2 separate regions of the Homo sapiens genome follow, and region 2 is linked to region 1. Evidence: fine-mapped expression QTL. Tissue or cell type: monocytes. Region 1 holds a variant in brackets; the other region holds the start of a gene. All regions are shown on one strand. Distances are from middle to middle.

Region 1 (8,108 bases):
AGGGACTCACAAGGTTGCAATCAAGAGGGTCTCATCTCTGGCTCCAGGTCTTTTTCTAAGCTCACGTGGTTATTGACAGAACTCCCTTCCAGCTAAAAACTCATGGAGGCTTAATTCTTTGAGGCCAGCAAGAGAAAGTTTCTGCTGCTTTGAGTCTCAGAGTTCGGGGAAGCTTAAATTCTCTTCCAAGCCATCACCTGGTTAGGTCAGGCCCACCTAGGATCATCTCCCTTTTGATTAAGTCGAACTGATTAGGGACCTTGATTACATTTGAAAAATATCCCTGCACCTTTTCTATCTAATGTAACATAATCACAGGAATAATATCCCATCATATTCACAGGCCCTGACCCCACTCAAGGGAAAGAGATTTTACAAGAGCACAGGCCACACAGGGGTCGTCTTAGGATTCTGCCTGCAACAAGTGTAACAAACCCTCATGAACTCATCACACAGCTTTAAGAATGGTTGTCATTCTGCCATTCTTGCTTCACTCCACACCCCCACTTAATCCTTATTCATTTTTACAGATTTTAAGGTGAAATTTATATACATTGAAATGCACAAATCTTAGCTGCCCAATTTTGACAAAGAAATGAGCCCCACATAACCCACACCCTTATGAATAGTTAAAATATTTCCATCTCCATCTCCCCCAGGAAATTCTTTCATGTTCCTTCCTACTCAGAGCCATATAGACAGACAGACAGATGGATAGATAGATCGATAGACAGGCAGAAAATATACACAGACATTTGAAAATATATAAAGTGTACATGGATATTTGAAAGAGTGAAGTGCATTGTTCGTTTAAGATCCTGGACATAGACCTGGATTTGCCTCCCAAATCTACTTCTTTCTTGCATACACACACACACACACACACATATATATACATACATATATATATATATCTCCATATATATATGCACATATATATGTGGGTCTGAGAATTAATTAATAATATATATATTTTTTCTTATTTTATTTTAAAGCTAATTCTAGGAAGTACCTAGGACCATACCTGGCAGAGTGTTAGCAACGGATAATTGTTAATCTTCCTTCCAATTCTTCTAAACTCGAGTTTGTGTTTATTATGAGATGCCACAAAGGCAAAGAGAAGGGACACTGCTGAGCTGCACAAGCCCTGGAGAGGAGGCTTCCAGAAGCGCTTTGGTCGGGATGCCTGGTGAGGCCAAGGCCATGTGTGCACTGCCTTACTGTTAGCGATAGACAGAATGAACATCTTCTGCTACCAGCACAGTGTCTACAAAGCATGGGAGGTTCTTTGATCTCTGTTGGATTAATGCACACATTTCTAGTTGCTAGGATGTGTATTTGAATTAGATGATGGTGAATCACACTCCTTTGCTTTTAGATCTCTCCTGATACAGTGATGGCAACAGGCTCTAGACATGGCTCAGAATGGGGGTGAGGAGGAATCTTATCCTTGATTTCCTGACATGGGATGGTCCCTTCTTGCCTCCAAAAAGTAGGTCTGGGTCATGCTCATGCTCAAGGATTTCCTCCTTCACCAGCAAAAAATAAATATTCAACAAGAAGGAGTGTGGCATCCAGATGGGACAAAAAAAGAAAAAGAATGAGGTATCAGACAGACAGATTCCAACGCTGTGATTTGAACCCATTTATATTAACACCTGAGGCTCTCCCTGCACGTCTCCTAGCCCAACCTTATCAGCCTTTTATGGGGATCGAAAGCAAGCATGCTGGGCTTGGCAGAAAGCACCTGAGCCCACACCATTCCCTTCCCCTTGCCTCGGATTTTAACATCCACCCTTGCTGGCTTGTCTGTCTGCCCAGCCAGCCAGGCACTTGCTCAGCCATCTCTCACCATTTAATACATATGAGGGATAGAAATATGTGGATTCATCAAGCATGATTTCTGCCCTTTGCAGGGGAGATAGGCATTTTTATAAATGGTAATAGTACAACCAGGCAAGGATAATTTCCCCCAAAGAGGCGAATACAAAATGCGTTAAGGTTTCCAGCAGGATCATTTTCTTCTATGCCATGTAGAGAGATTTGGAGGAGGGGGTAGCCCTTGAGCTTTAATTTAAAGACCACAAATAATTCTAGGTTATCCCTCCACCTCCTTCTATTCCTTCTCCTATTTCCTCATCATTTCTTCCTCTCCCCTGCCTCTTTCCTTCTAGGAGATTATCCATCTTCCTCTCTCCTGTGCCCTCTGTCTTTTGCCCTCTCCCTTTCCTTATAGACATAAGAATGCTCATCCCTACTAAATAAACTACCTGCCGTAATTCCTCCCCACTCGACCACTTTATAAACCATAACCCCCAATCCCTTGAGCCTGGAGACGTTATGAGAAGAATCCCACAAAGGGCAACACTGATGATTTCTCATTTAATTTTTCCAAAGATTTGATTTTTTTTAAATTTAAAACTCAAAAGTGCCATTAAAGCCCTCACCCAGATCAGCTGTATCTTTAAGTGTAAAATCCATTTCAGTCGGCAGAGCTTGCGATACGGTTAAGTACTTATTTTTATTGTCTGTCTGGGCATGGTTTTTAACTGCAGGTGGAGAATAAATCAATAATGTCATAAAGACATGCTCACCCCGTGCCCTTTCCACAGCCTGCTCTGGAGTGCTGAACTCAGGAGAGAGGCTGAGGTCTGCATGCCCTGAATCGTGCAGTGGGTAGGAGGCTGGTAGATGTGTCCTCTCTCCATGCCATTTTATCTGACATTGTTTGGCAAAGGCTGTGCATTTTTTATGGTTTTCCCAACTGTTTGCAAAGGGCAACATCCGCTTGCTGTTTGCACCCATGAGAGGCTATGATTGTGTCCTTCCTGCTGCAAGAGGCCCAGAGGTAGCCCCACTCCTCTAGGACGGACCCTGAATTGTTAAAAGGAGTGAAGTTCCTGGAACAATCATTGTTATATTAAATGCCTGGGTTGCCACCGTGGATTTTGGCATCTTGAGAGAGTTCCTCCATTCATTCCTTTTGTGGGCATGCAGACATCTGGGACCTGCAAAGAGAAATGAGGACTCCCTCCCCCTCCACAGAGGATATGACTGCCTGTGGCTGTTCCTCCCACGATGTGTCTGGACTATCCCTACGCTGAGCCAGGGGTGTGAACGACCAGATGGCCATCGACACCATCAAAAAAGGCATCCCCAGTTCCATGTCCCCTCACTCTACTTTTCTTCGTTCCCCTTATCACAACCTGTAGTCTGTACATTTATTTGCTTAGCGTCAGTCCTTCCCACCAGAATGTAAGCTCCATAGGACAGAATTGTGTTGTGTTCACACTGGCTGGTGCGCCATATGGTACCGGGCCTCGGTACACACCCATTCAATCACTGACTACCCAAATCTCTCCAGGACAGGAACTCATGCTCTTTTACTGCTTGTTCCCTCTCCATGGCAGGGTTTTTTCTTTCTTTCTCTCTTTCTTTCCTTCTTTTCTAACATTATTGACGTACAATTTATATACATTACTATAAAATTCACCAATTTAAAGTGTGACATTTAATGGGCTTTTGTATATGTATAGAGTTGTACAACCATCGCCCTACTCTAATTTTAGAACATTTCTACACCCTAGAAGGAAACTCCA[T/C]ACCCATGAACAGTCACTCCCCATTTCTTCTCTGCCTCCAAGCCCTAGGCAACCACTCATCTACTTCCTGTCTGTATAAATTTGCCTACAGTGGACATTTTAAAGAGATGGAATCATACAACATTGCTCTTTGTACCTGGCTTCTTTCACTTAGTATATCTTTTCGAGGTTTCCCCCTGATGTGGCATGCATTTGTATTTTGTTCTTTTGATTATGGAATAGTATTCCATTGTATGGATAGAACATATCTTGGGTATCCCTTTAGTAGTTGATGGACATTCGGGATATTTCTACTTTTTGATTATTATGAATAATGTCTTTATGAGTGAATTCACATAGAAGTCTTTATGTAGACACGAATCTTCATTTCTCTTGGGTAGATTCCCAGGAGTGGAATTGCTGGGTCTCTAATGGCATTTTGTCAATTTAGCCCTGTAATATATTTATTCTTCTCTCCATTATCAGCCTTTGAGCTGCTTGAGGGTTGACTGGGGATTTGAGTCATCTAAATATTTCCATAAAATCTGATCTAGATGCTTACATATGGTGGCTCCTTGTAAACCATTCCAGAGCAAAGGAAAGAGAGGGAAAGAGAGGTCAGGCTGAAGCCAAGGCCTGCAGCATTAGGGGAGAAGCAAGGAAAAATTGCTGTGGAGTCTTTCCTAACTAGAAAGCTACACTTTGTCTTACGCATGAGGGAGAAAGCATGTCTGCACTTAGCAAGGCCATTTTCCCCAAAGTTGTCAGTGATGTCACTCATATCACCTGGTAAAAGTTTTTTCTTCTAACAATAATTGTTATTGTACCCATTATGGAAAATTTGATAATACAGATCAATAAAGAAGAAATTGGATTACCTATATAGTGACATTCCTGACATGACCACTTATCAGCTGTCCTAGGCAAACACTATGACATCAGCAAACCTCAGGGCTTTTTTACTTGTTTGGGTTTTTTTGTTTGTTTGCATTTCTGAGACAGTGCCTTGCCGTGATGCCCAGGCTGGAGTGCAATGGCATGATCTCAGCTCACTGCAACCTCTGCTTCCAGGGCTGGAGCCATCCTCCTACCTCAGCCGCCCTAGCACCTGGAACTACAGGTGTGCACCACCATGCCCAACTAATTTTTGTGGGTTTTTTTCTAGAGACAGGAGTTAGCCTGTCTTTACAAAAGACATGTTGCCCAGCCTGAGCTGTAACTCCTGGGCTCAAGCAATCTGCCTGCCTTGGCCTCCCAAAGTGCTGAGATTATAGGCATGAGCCATTGTGCTCTGCCTAAACCTTAGTTTTTTACATCTGGAAAGTGTGAAAAAATAACAGGGAGTGCTGAGAATTTGGAGTTGAGGGTTCTGTCGTGCTCTTCATGACTGCTTAGATGTTTTGTATCTGTAAGATAAGGAAAAAAGTAAGCAGATTAATGGGTAGAGAAGCTCTGCTGTAAAGCACAGGAACTTGCTCCTTCTGCCTCTCCATCTTACCCTGCAGGTATGCCTCCTTCCTCCACAGGCGTGGGAGTGGTCAGCAGGAAGGCAGGCCAGGTAGGAAAGTCCAGCAAATGTGTACCTAAAAGATGGCATGGACCTGGTAATTAAACACACATCTGCAAGAATGATGGTGAAGACTAGGGTGGGAGGTGATGTGATATGAACATGACGATGATGGTAGCTTTCATTGCTACCATCTTCCATGCATTATATAAGATACTTTATTCATTCTTTTCCAGTTAACTGAATAATTTGAGTGCCTCTCACTGCATCAGGTTCTTGGGATACAGAGATGGATGAGAAATGGTGACAAATAGCAGTAAAACACACTAGTTCTGGCGTCAGCTAAACTTCAGTCATCCATTCATCCGTTCACCCATCCATCCACCCATTCAACAGATTCAAGAGGGAGTGCCTTCTATGGCCCCAGCATCGTGTTGGACAATGGAATCCTGGCTGTCTTTCCTGTAGTACATGAAGCCAATTCTTAAACTCTTTAAGTCTCAGTTTTCTCAGCTGATAAATGGGAAGAATAATACCCAGTAAGTTCCACTGGGTTGCTATGAGAACTAAATAAAATATGCTTAGCACAGTACCTGAATGAGTTGGCTGCTGTTGTTTAGTAATAGTATTTGTATTTGCATTGGAAGATATGGACCTGCCCTCCAGGAACTTGTGGTGGGGGCTGGTACATGGCCTTTTGCTTCCCTAGCTGTTTCTCTAGCCCACAGTGGAGTGGGCAGCTCTTTCTGCCATGCCCTAGTTGCCATCCTGGTCCCCTGGGCCCTCTGAGCTGAGCCCCTGGGGGGGCTCAGTAACATGACCTGCCCTGGACCCATCCCCTAACTTTGCCAGGAAAGGGCGGATGGGCGTCCTCATTGGCAAGGATCCGAGCAGGGCAAGTGTTGGGGTTCAGAGGACAAAGGAAAGGGACATTTCAAGGAAGTTCCCACTTCCTCAGAACCAGAGTTCCTATCTCCGCCGCTCATGTGATCTATTGGGACATTTTTCATGTTCCAAATGTAAGCACATCCCGGAAAAATGCCAGTGTTGGTCTTGTGATGAAATGTCTTTCTTTACAAATGCCTGACATGGCCTGAGAGCCTGGAGGATGGCGAGCAGAAGGAGCAGACCGCACGTTTCTGAGCGAGGTAGAGATTATATGTTCCCATCCTTATTCACTTTTCTAAACTTAAGATAACTTATGTCTGTAAAATGGGAACAAAATGTGCCCTGTCATGAGGTGGTTTATGAGTTTAAATGAGACCCTGTAGGCCAGGCGCGGTGGCTCAAGCCTGTAATCTCAGCACTTTGGGAGGCCGAGGTGGGTGGATCACGAGGTCAGGAGTTCGAGACCAGCCTGACCAACACTGTGAAACCCTGTCTCTACTAAAAATACAAAAATTAGCCAGACAAGGTGGCGGGCACCTGTAATCCCAGCTACTCAGGAGGCTGAGGCAGGAGAATCACTTGAACCTGGGAGGTAGAGGTTGCAGTGAGCTGAGATCACGCCACTGCACTCCAGTCTGGGCAACAGAGTGAGACTCTGTCTCAGAAAAAAATAAAAATTAAAAATAAATAAATAAATAAATGAGACCTTGCATATAAAAATACCTAGCTCTGCAATGACCATTTTTTCAGTTGTAATTTGTTTCATCTTCATACTGTTCAATGAAGTAGACAATTTTATCATCTCTACTTATAGAGGAGGAAATTGAGATCAGAGAGGTAACTACTTGCTTAAAGCCACCCAGGTAATAGGCGGGAGAGTTGGTCATCAAACAAGATCTGTCTGAATCCCGAGCTTATGTTTTTAACCACTCACCATTTATTTAGTGTAAGAATCAGCAAACTTTTTCTGTAAAGGGACAGATATTAAATATTTTTGGCTTTGTGGTCCAGACTGTCTGTTGCAACCGCTCAACTCTGCCATTGAGGAATGAAAGCAGCCATATACAATGTAAATGAACGGTCATGGCTATGTTCCAATAAAACTGTATTTACAAAAATGGGCAGTGGGCTGGATGGGGCTTGCAGGGCTCCAGTTTGCAACCTCTGCTTTAGAGGAACGCATGAGTTGGGCCCTTGGGCACTTGGGACACATGATTGGGTGTGGGGTGGCTAAGGAATAAATGCCTGCTAGCATAAGGACAGCTTGTAGCCTCTACAAAACATCTGCTTGTCAAACAACATCACTCTTTATATGGAAGATGGCTATTAAAAAGGAAGTGTGAGCCCACGATTGATTGAAGGCAATCAAAGCAAGCAGGAGGATTAAGTACAAGAGGTCGCCATTAGAAGGGTCTCCTGCATGTAGCCTTCCTGACCAAGGACAAGAATAGCCCGGGTGATTTATAATGCTCCATGGAGCTTCTCTGGCTTCTCTGGTTTCTTTTCTGCCCCCTGGATTATCTTATCCTCAGCCACCCCCTTCCTCTACCCCAAAGGATTTGAAACTTCCCAGGCATGGGGGCCACGTTACCACTGTCTGCACCATCCTGGCAGACTCTGACTGCCCCTCAATGCCAACACCCCTGGCCTGCCCAGGGTGAGCTGGGGCTGAGCAGGTTAAGGCCAGGTTTGCCCTGAGGCTGCAGCATGCTGGGGCTGCTCCAGACCTGTTTCTGGGACAGCAGGTGCAGTCGTTCACTGACACCAAAATACATTCTTGAGGCAAGAGCAGACGGGCCAAACAAGAGCAGGTCTCCCACCCTCCACGGACTTGGCTCCCTCCAGAGGACACATTTGCCATGAGGACACCCCAAGTGCTAATCCTCTCACCCAGGAGATCTAAGCAGAGTCAGCATTTTAGTTGAGGGCTGGACACAGGCAGGGGCATCCCCCCAGTGCCGTCTGGCCGGCCCAGGGCAGCAGTAAATCACACAGGGGAAGGCACTTCTTGGACGCCTGGGCTGCTGGGGACTCCGTGGGTGTCATAAATCAGGAGCTCACCCCATTTCACCTGTACCTTCTCGTGAGTATGTGCAGGGCCCTCTGCAGCCCGGGAAGAGAAAATGGCGGAGAAT
Region 2 (8,108 bases), 130 kb before region 1:
GTGAAACTATAATTGTGTTTCTGATGTTACTGTGTCACAATATTCTATGCGATGTAACCCATGTCCTCCTCCCCCTCACAAATCTCCTATAAATATTCATTGCTTTCAAAAACTTTAATACTACTGGTCCGAATTGGTCAATAATGACAAATGCATGGTTTCTAAATTACTGTATATTGTTCTACAGAGATTACTAGAGTATATATAGCAAGGGGATGTTAAGCAGTAAGAAAACACAGTTCACATTGTATTTGGATTAGATTGGCTTGGATAGAAGTGAAACAAACAATGTTAGCAAAGAAGTCTAAAGACATGTGGCCCACTGTAATTGTACAGAATCAAAAACCTGAATAGTACTCATTAAAATGAGAGAGCTCAATTGTTATAAAAGAAATGCTGCTAACAGAGAACTGTAAATGTTTAGACACCCCTGTGAATCACTAAATAATAATGTAAAAAGGATAAAAATGAGAATTAAGTTATAAGCCTGAGAGCATTACTGCTACACATCTAAAAAAATAATTCTGATCCTCTCTTTTTTTTTTCCAAGAGAAAATGGGCGACTATAAAAGACCTTGCAATAAGAGAAATAAAAATACCATGTCTTCACAGCAGTGTACATAAATAAACCATAAAAATGTGCAGATAATAATATATTTAGCTGCCCAAACATGGGCATTTAATTTCTAGAAATGATATATAACAATGTAACAATTAGATACTCAGCCATGAATGTGTATGGCACAGTCTTCATCATTAGCAAACTTTGTGTATAAAATATTATTTATTATTTATTATAATACTGCTTTCAGAGGCAATGATCATACCTTACAGCTTTTAACACAAATATGATGCAAAAGGATTAAAAGTATATCATAAACAAACAATAAATTCTTTCTAAATACACTTAAATTCATATTTTACATGAAAAATATAAACTTCCTACATTTGTGACTACTGACTTTTAAAAAGACCTAGAAAACTATTGTTACGGGCAATGTTAAATGACATAATGCTTATGTAATGGAAAGTGTGGATTTTCCTCTAAATAAACTATAATCCCTTAACTTCATTACTAGGGAAAATATTGTTAAAGAGAAGGAAAGCAAGGGAATTCTGCTAGGTTGCATAAATATTGACATAATCTTCACTCTTTCTTCCCCAAACTGGTAATAGACATAGTTTATTCCACCCAACAAAATGCTCTTATAAGACCAAAACTACCCTTATTAACAACTTCTCTGCAGTCACGATGAAAAGAAACACTACTTGTCTGAAAAATACCGACAGCGCTGCCCTTTTCAGATTAGGGTGTGCCTACGAATCTTTTGGGAAGTCTTCCATTAAGGATTCCTGGGTTTGCTGAAACTGAAGTCTACTAGGATCAGAGAAATTAACACAGGTCTAATATGGTGCAAGGAACGAGTGAGAGACACCTGAGGTTATAAATAGCAAAGCATGCTGCGGGGTGGGGAAGACCATTCTGAAGTGCAATGTTCAAGACGCTGGCTTAATATATGACTAAGTGTCAGAAGTCAGGTTTTCTGAGAATTACTTTCCAGATAAACAACTTTATAGCACTGCACTTAATCTTACTTACTAGAGACATCTCATTTATCACTGAATTACAAGTAACTTTAATCCTATTGATATTGCCATAAAGCCCGTTGAAAATCCATCCTGGCACTTTTAAAGGGTTTGGGGCCCTGTTACATGGGGATCCTCTTGCAAAGGTCTCAGCCAGAAATTACACCCCGAGGGTGTCTGTATCCCCTGGCCTCTTTGTCAACAATCAAGGAGAAGAGGAGGGGCAAAAATGATCTCTGCATCTGCCAGCACTTTCTTCGGCCCCTTTCCTATAGGGTCGGGTTCTCCCACTTCAGTCAAACTAACTTTGTGTGTCTCTTTCCTCCTCCCACACTGGGTAACCAGCTGCTTTTCACTTCATCGACAAAACTGGACACGGATCAATTTCAACTGACCTTTGCCGAAAGGTGGCGCTGTTGAGGTAAAAACCAACTCGCTCCAACAATAGTTTCCACTCTTCGATCCTTTTGCAGGCTTTTCAGAATTTTTTTTTTTTTTTAATGCACCCTCCTAGCGTCTCCCCCTTCTCATAAAGTAAAATAAATACGATTAAAAACACCAAATGCATTTCATTAATTGAAGGAATCAACAGTCCCAACTTCTAAGCAGACGGGCTGGTCTTCCAAAGGCTGGGTCGGTTTCAGGAGCTTTCTCTCCAAATAAATCTCTGCTTCTTCGACTTGCCTATCGCTTTAAAATCTTAGAAACAGAGTTAGTTGTTGGTTTCCTTCTTTTTTCTTTTTCTTTTTTATTTCTTTTTTGCATAAACTTTTAGAGAATCAATCTAGAAATTTGAACTACTTATTAGCATTTGCAACTGGGGGTGGGGGGAGCAGCCTCCCCCACCCCACCCCCCACTCTGCGTTTCCGGACTAGTTCCAGAAACCGCGGTTTAAAATTTAACCCTTCGAGGGTAGCTGGTGAGGGCTGGGGTATTGTTTTTCCCCCTTGCTCCCTGCCACGATCAAGTCCGAAATAATTAAAGGAAACGTAAAAGTGCAAAGGGCGCGCCTGACCCTGATAAACAGAGGTCAGATTTCGTAAGGGGACGGGTGAGTGTGAGTGTGTGTGTGTTTGTGTGTGTGTGTGTAAGAGAGAGAGAGAGCGAGCGCGCAATATGAGTCTCAAAGGCCAAACTCCGGCCAGTCAGGAGCCGGAAGGCTGAGCCCGGCTGACCTGACTTTGAGCTTCCCCGGAGTTATCTCGCATAGGCGCTCGCTCTGTCCAAGGGCACGCGACGCCAGCGGGCAGCCGGTCTCCGTGAAGAATGGCCTCTAAACAACTTATTTTACCTCGTTGTAAAGAGAGGGATAAAATGGGCTTTCCCTCTCCACGGATGCCCAGCCTTCTGGGCAGGCGCATGGCCGGGCGGCGCCCAGCCCGCAGCCCCGATCCGGACACCCCACTGCATCCCTCCCTTCCCGGTCCCTTCCCCGCACGGGCGCCCGAGAGACGGACAAAGAGTTGGGGCCAAGTTTGAGCGCCGGGCACGGCCAGGCTCAGGGAAGGAAGGTCCCCGGCAGACACCTGGGTACCAGAGTTGGTGCGAGGAGGAAAAGCTGGGAGGCGAATTCACAATCCTGGGGGTGGAGGGCAGGCAGGGGAGGGGAATCAGGCCAATCCCAGCCGAGTGAGCCCCCAGCGAGCTGGGGCTCCGGATGGGAGGCCTGTCTCGCGCTCCAAAGAAAAGCAAACCGCCCTCCCAGGTCCGCCCGGATTGCCGAAGCCCCTCTGGAAAAACTCCTTCCCCTCTTACACCAAACTTTGCGCCGGGCCTCGTTCCCTCCCGGGTAGGCAGCGGCGCAGGAAGGGTTAAGCCAGCCCGTCCCAGCTGACAGTCAGCTGATTGGGCCCTGATTGACAGCTCCGAAAAGTTTCCTTGTTTCTATACTATTATGCTAATCGCGGCCGCTCTCGCCGCCTCCCATTGGCCCGGAGTGCCAGTCAATTTCTCATTTGGACCTGACGTCACGAGTGCTATAAAACTCAGCAATTGCTTTAAACTCTTCTTGCTGGATCAGAGGCTTTAAAATCTTTTTTCATCTTCTAGCTGTAGCTCGGGCTGCTTGTCGGCTTGGCCTCCCCCTCCCCCCTTTGCTCTCTGCCTCGTCTTTCCCCAGGACTTCGCTATTTTGCTTTTTTAAAAAAAGGCAAGAAAGAACTAAACTCCCCCCTCCCTCTCCTCCAGTCGGGCTGCACCTCTGCCTTGCACTTTGCACAGAGGTAGAGAGCGCGCGAGGGAGAGAGAGGAAAGAAAAAAAATAATAAAGAGAGCCAAGCAGAAGAGGAGGCGAGAAGCATGAAGTGTTAACTCCCCCGTGCCAAGGCCCGCGCCGCCCGGACAGACGCCCGCCGCGCCTCCAGCCCCGAGCGGACGCCGCGCGCGCCCTGCCTGCAGCCCGGGCCGGCGAGGCGAGCCCTTCCTTATGCAAAGCGCGCAGCGGAGCGGCGAGCGGGGGACGCCGCGCACCGGGCCGGGCTCCTCCAGCTTCGCCGCCGCAGCCACCACCGCCGCCACCGCAGCTCGCGGAGGATCTTCCCGAGCCTGAAGCCGCCGGCTCGGCGCGCAAGGAGGCGAGCGAGCAAGGAGGGGCCGGGGCGAGCGAGGGAGCACATTGGCGTGAGCAGGGGGGAGGGAGGGCGGGCGCGGGGGGCGCGGGCAGGGCGGGGGGGTGTGTGTGTGAGCGCGCTCGGAGGTTTCGGGCCAGCCACCGCCGCGCAAGCTAGAAGCGCCCCAGCCCGGCAAGCTGGCTCACCCGCTGGCCACCCAGCACAGCCCGCTGGCCCCTCTCCTGCAGCCCATCTGGCGGAGCGGCGGCGGCGGCGGCGGCGGCGGCAGGAGAATGGCATCAGAACTGGCAATGAGCAACTCCGACCTGCCCACCAGTCCCCTGGCCATGGAATATGTTAATGACTTCGATCTGATGAAGTTTGAAGTGAAAAAGGAACCGGTGGAGACCGACCGCATCATCAGCCAGTGCGGCCGTCTCATCGCCGGGGGCTCGCTGTCCTCCACCCCCATGAGCACGCCGTGCAGCTCGGTGCCCCCTTCCCCCAGCTTCTCGGCGCCCAGCCCGGGCTCGGGCAGCGAGCAGAAGGCGCACCTGGAAGACTACTACTGGATGACCGGCTACCCGCAGCAGCTGAACCCCGAGGCGCTGGGCTTCAGCCCCGAGGACGCGGTCGAGGCGCTCATCAGCAACAGCCACCAGCTCCAGGGCGGCTTCGATGGCTACGCGCGCGGGGCGCAGCAGCTGGCCGCGGCGGCCGGGGCCGGTGCCGGCGCCTCCTTGGGCGGCAGCGGCGAGGAGATGGGCCCCGCCGCCGCCGTGGTGTCCGCCGTGATCGCCGCGGCCGCCGCGCAGAGCGGCGCGGGCCCGCACTACCACCACCACCACCACCACGCCGCCGGCCACCACCACCACCCGACGGCCGGCGCGCCCGGCGCCGCGGGCAGCGCGGCCGCCTCGGCCGGTGGCGCTGGGGGCGCGGGCGGCGGTGGCCCGGCCAGCGCTGGGGGCGGCGGCGGCGGCGGCGGCGGCGGAGGCGGCGGGGGCGCGGCGGGGGCGGGGGGCGCCCTGCACCCGCACCACGCCGCCGGCGGCCTGCACTTCGACGACCGCTTCTCCGACGAGCAGCTGGTGACCATGTCTGTGCGCGAGCTGAACCGGCAGCTGCGCGGGGTCAGCAAGGAGGAGGTGATCCGGCTGAAGCAGAAGAGGCGGACCCTGAAAAACCGCGGCTATGCCCAGTCCTGCCGCTTCAAGAGGGTGCAGCAGAGACACGTCCTGGAGTCGGAGAAGAACCAGCTGCTGCAGCAAGTCGACCACCTCAAGCAGGAGATCTCCAGGCTGGTGCGCGAGAGGGACGCGTACAAGGAGAAATACGAGAAGTTGGTGAGCAGCGGCTTCCGAGAAAACGGCTCGAGCAGCGACAACCCGTCCTCTCCCGAGTTTTTCATGTGAGTCTGACACGCGATTCCAGCTAGCCACCCTGATAAGTGCTCCGCGGGGGTCCGGCTCGGGTGTGGGCTTGCTAGTTCTAGAGCCATGCTCGCCACCACCTCACCACCCCCACCCCCACCGAGTTTGGCCCCCTTGGCCCCCTACACACACACAAACCCGCACGCACACACCACACACACACACACACACACACACACACCCCACACCCTGCTCGAGTTTGTGGTGGTGGTGGCTGTTTTAAACTGGGGAGGGAATGGGTGTCTGGCTCATGGATTGCCAATCTGAAATTCTCCATAACTTGCTAGCTTGTTTTTTTTTTTTTTTTACACCCCCCCGCCCCACCCCCGGACTTGCACAATGTTCAATGATCTCAGCAGAGTTCTTCATGTGAAACGTTGATCACCTTTGAAGCCTGCATCATTCACATATTTTTTCTTCTTCTTCCCCTTCAGTTCATGAACTGGTGTTCATTTTCTGTGTGTGTGTGTGTTTTATTTTGTTTGGATTTTTTTTTTTAATTTTACTTTTAGAGCTTGCTGTGTTGCCCACCTTTTTTCCAACCTCCACCCTCACTCCTTCTCAACCCATCTCTTCCGAGATGAAAGAAAAAAAAAAGCAAAGTTTTTTTTTCTTCTCCTGAGTTCTTCATGTGAGATTGAGCTTGCAAAGGAAAAAAAAATGTGAAATGTTATAGACTTGCAGCGTGCCGAGTTCCATCGGGTTTTTTTTTTAGCATTGTTATGCTAAAATAGAGAAAAAAATCCTCATGAACCTTCCACAATCAAGCCTGCATCAACCTTCTGGGTGTGACTTGTGAGTTTTGGCCTTGTGATGCCAAATCTGAGAGTTTAGTCTGCCATTAAAAAAACTCATTCTCATCTCATGCATTATTATGCTTGCTACTTTGTCTTAGCAACAATGAACTATAACTGTTTCAAAGACTTTATGGAAAAGAGACATTATATTAATAAAAAAAAAAAGCCTGCATGCTGGACATGTATGGTATAATTATTTTTTCCTTTTTTTTTCCTTTTGGCTTGGAAATGGACGTTCGAAGACTTATAGCATGGCATTCATACTTTTGTTTTATTGCCTCATGACTTTTTTGAGTTTAGAACAAAACAGTGCAACCGTAGAGCCTTCTTCCCATGAAATTTTGCATCTGCTCCAAAACTGCTTTGAGTTACTCAGAACTTCAACCTCCCAATGCACTGAAGGCATTCCTTGTCAAAGATACCAGAATGGGTTACACATTTAACCTGGCAAACATTGAAGAACTCTTAATGTTTTCTTTTTAATAAGAATGACGCCCCACTTTGGGGACTAAAATTGTGCTATTGCCGAGAAGCAGTCTAAAATTTATTTTTTAAAAAGAGAAACTGCCCCATTATTTTTGGTTTGTTTTATTTTTATTTTATATTTTTTGGCTTTTGGTCATTGTCAAATGTGGAATGCTCTGGGTTTCTAGTATATAATTTAATTCTAGTTTTTATAATCTGTTAGCCCAGTTAAAATGTATGCTACAGATAAAGGAATGTTATAGATAAATTTGAAAGAGTTAGGTCTGTTTAGCTGTAGATTTTTTAAACGATTGATGCACTAAATTGTTTACTATTGTGATGTTAAGGGGGGTAGAGTTTGCAAGGGGACTGTTTAAAAAAAGTAGCTTATACAGCATGTGCTTGCAACTTAAATATAAGTTGGGTATGTGTAGTCTTTGCTATACCACTGACTGTATTGAAAACCAAAGTATTAAGAGGGGAAACGCCCCTGTTTATATCTGTAGGGGTATTTTACATTCAAAAATGTATGTTTTTTTTTCTTTTCAAAATTAAAGTATTTGGGACTGAATTGCACTAAGATATAACCTGCAAGCATATAATACAAAAAAAAATTGCAAAACTGTTTAGAACGCTAATAAAATTTATGCAGTTATAAAAATGGCATTACTGCACAGTTTTAAGATGATGCAGATTTTTTTACAGTTGTATTGTGGTGCAGAACTGGATTTTCTGTAACTTAAAAAAAAATCCACAGTTTTAAAGGCAATAATCAGTAAATGTTATTTTCAGGGACTGACATCCTGTCTTTAAAAAGAAATGAAAAGTAAATCTTACCACAATAAATATAAAAAAATCTTGTCAGTTACTTTTCTTTTACATATTTTGCTGTGCAAAATTGTTTTATATCTTGAGTTACTAACTAACCACGCGTGTTGTTCCTATGTGCTTTTCTTTCATTTTCAATTCTGGTTATATCAAGAAAAGAATAATCTACAATAATAAACGGCATTTTTTTTTGATTCTGTACTCAGTTTCTTAGTGTACAGTTTAACTGGGCCCAACAACCTCGTTAAAAGTGTAAAATGCATCCTTTTCTCCAGTGGAAGGATTCCTGGAGGAATAGGGAGACAGTAATTCAGGGTGAAATTATAGGCTGTTTTTTGAAGTGAGGAGGCTGGCCCCATATACTGATTAGCAATATTTAATATAGATGTAAATTATGACCTCATTTTTTTCTCCCCAAAGTTTTCAGTTTTCAAATGAGTTGAGCCAT

Evidence for each region. PIP is the estimated chance that this variant, and not a neighbour inherited with it, causes the effect.
Region 2: it holds the start of MAF, and the variant in region 1 is fine-mapped to the expression of MAF in monocytes (TOPMed, PIP above 0.99). The same link has a PIP of 0.9 or more in whole blood.

The regions. Positions count from the first base shown.
Region 1 is chr16:79,468,142-79,476,249 of GRCh38, reverse strand. It overlaps a transcript of MAF not described here. Among named protein-coding and RNA genes, the nearest start is that of MAF, 130 kb to the left of the region's middle. The variant T/C (reference allele first, on the strand shown) is at 3,600.
Region 2 is chr16:79,596,225-79,604,332 of GRCh38, reverse strand. MAF (MAF bZIP transcription factor) reads left to right here and starts at 3,596. Exons shown (of 2, transcript NM_005360.5): 1 at 3,596-5,548. The coding sequence starts at 4,431. It overlaps LOC101928230 (a long non-coding RNA gene), which reads right to left and starts at 3,446. Exons shown (of 3, transcript NR_188556.1): 1 at 3,344-3,446; 2 at 1,983-2,286. RefSeq lists an enhancer at 3,387-3,681.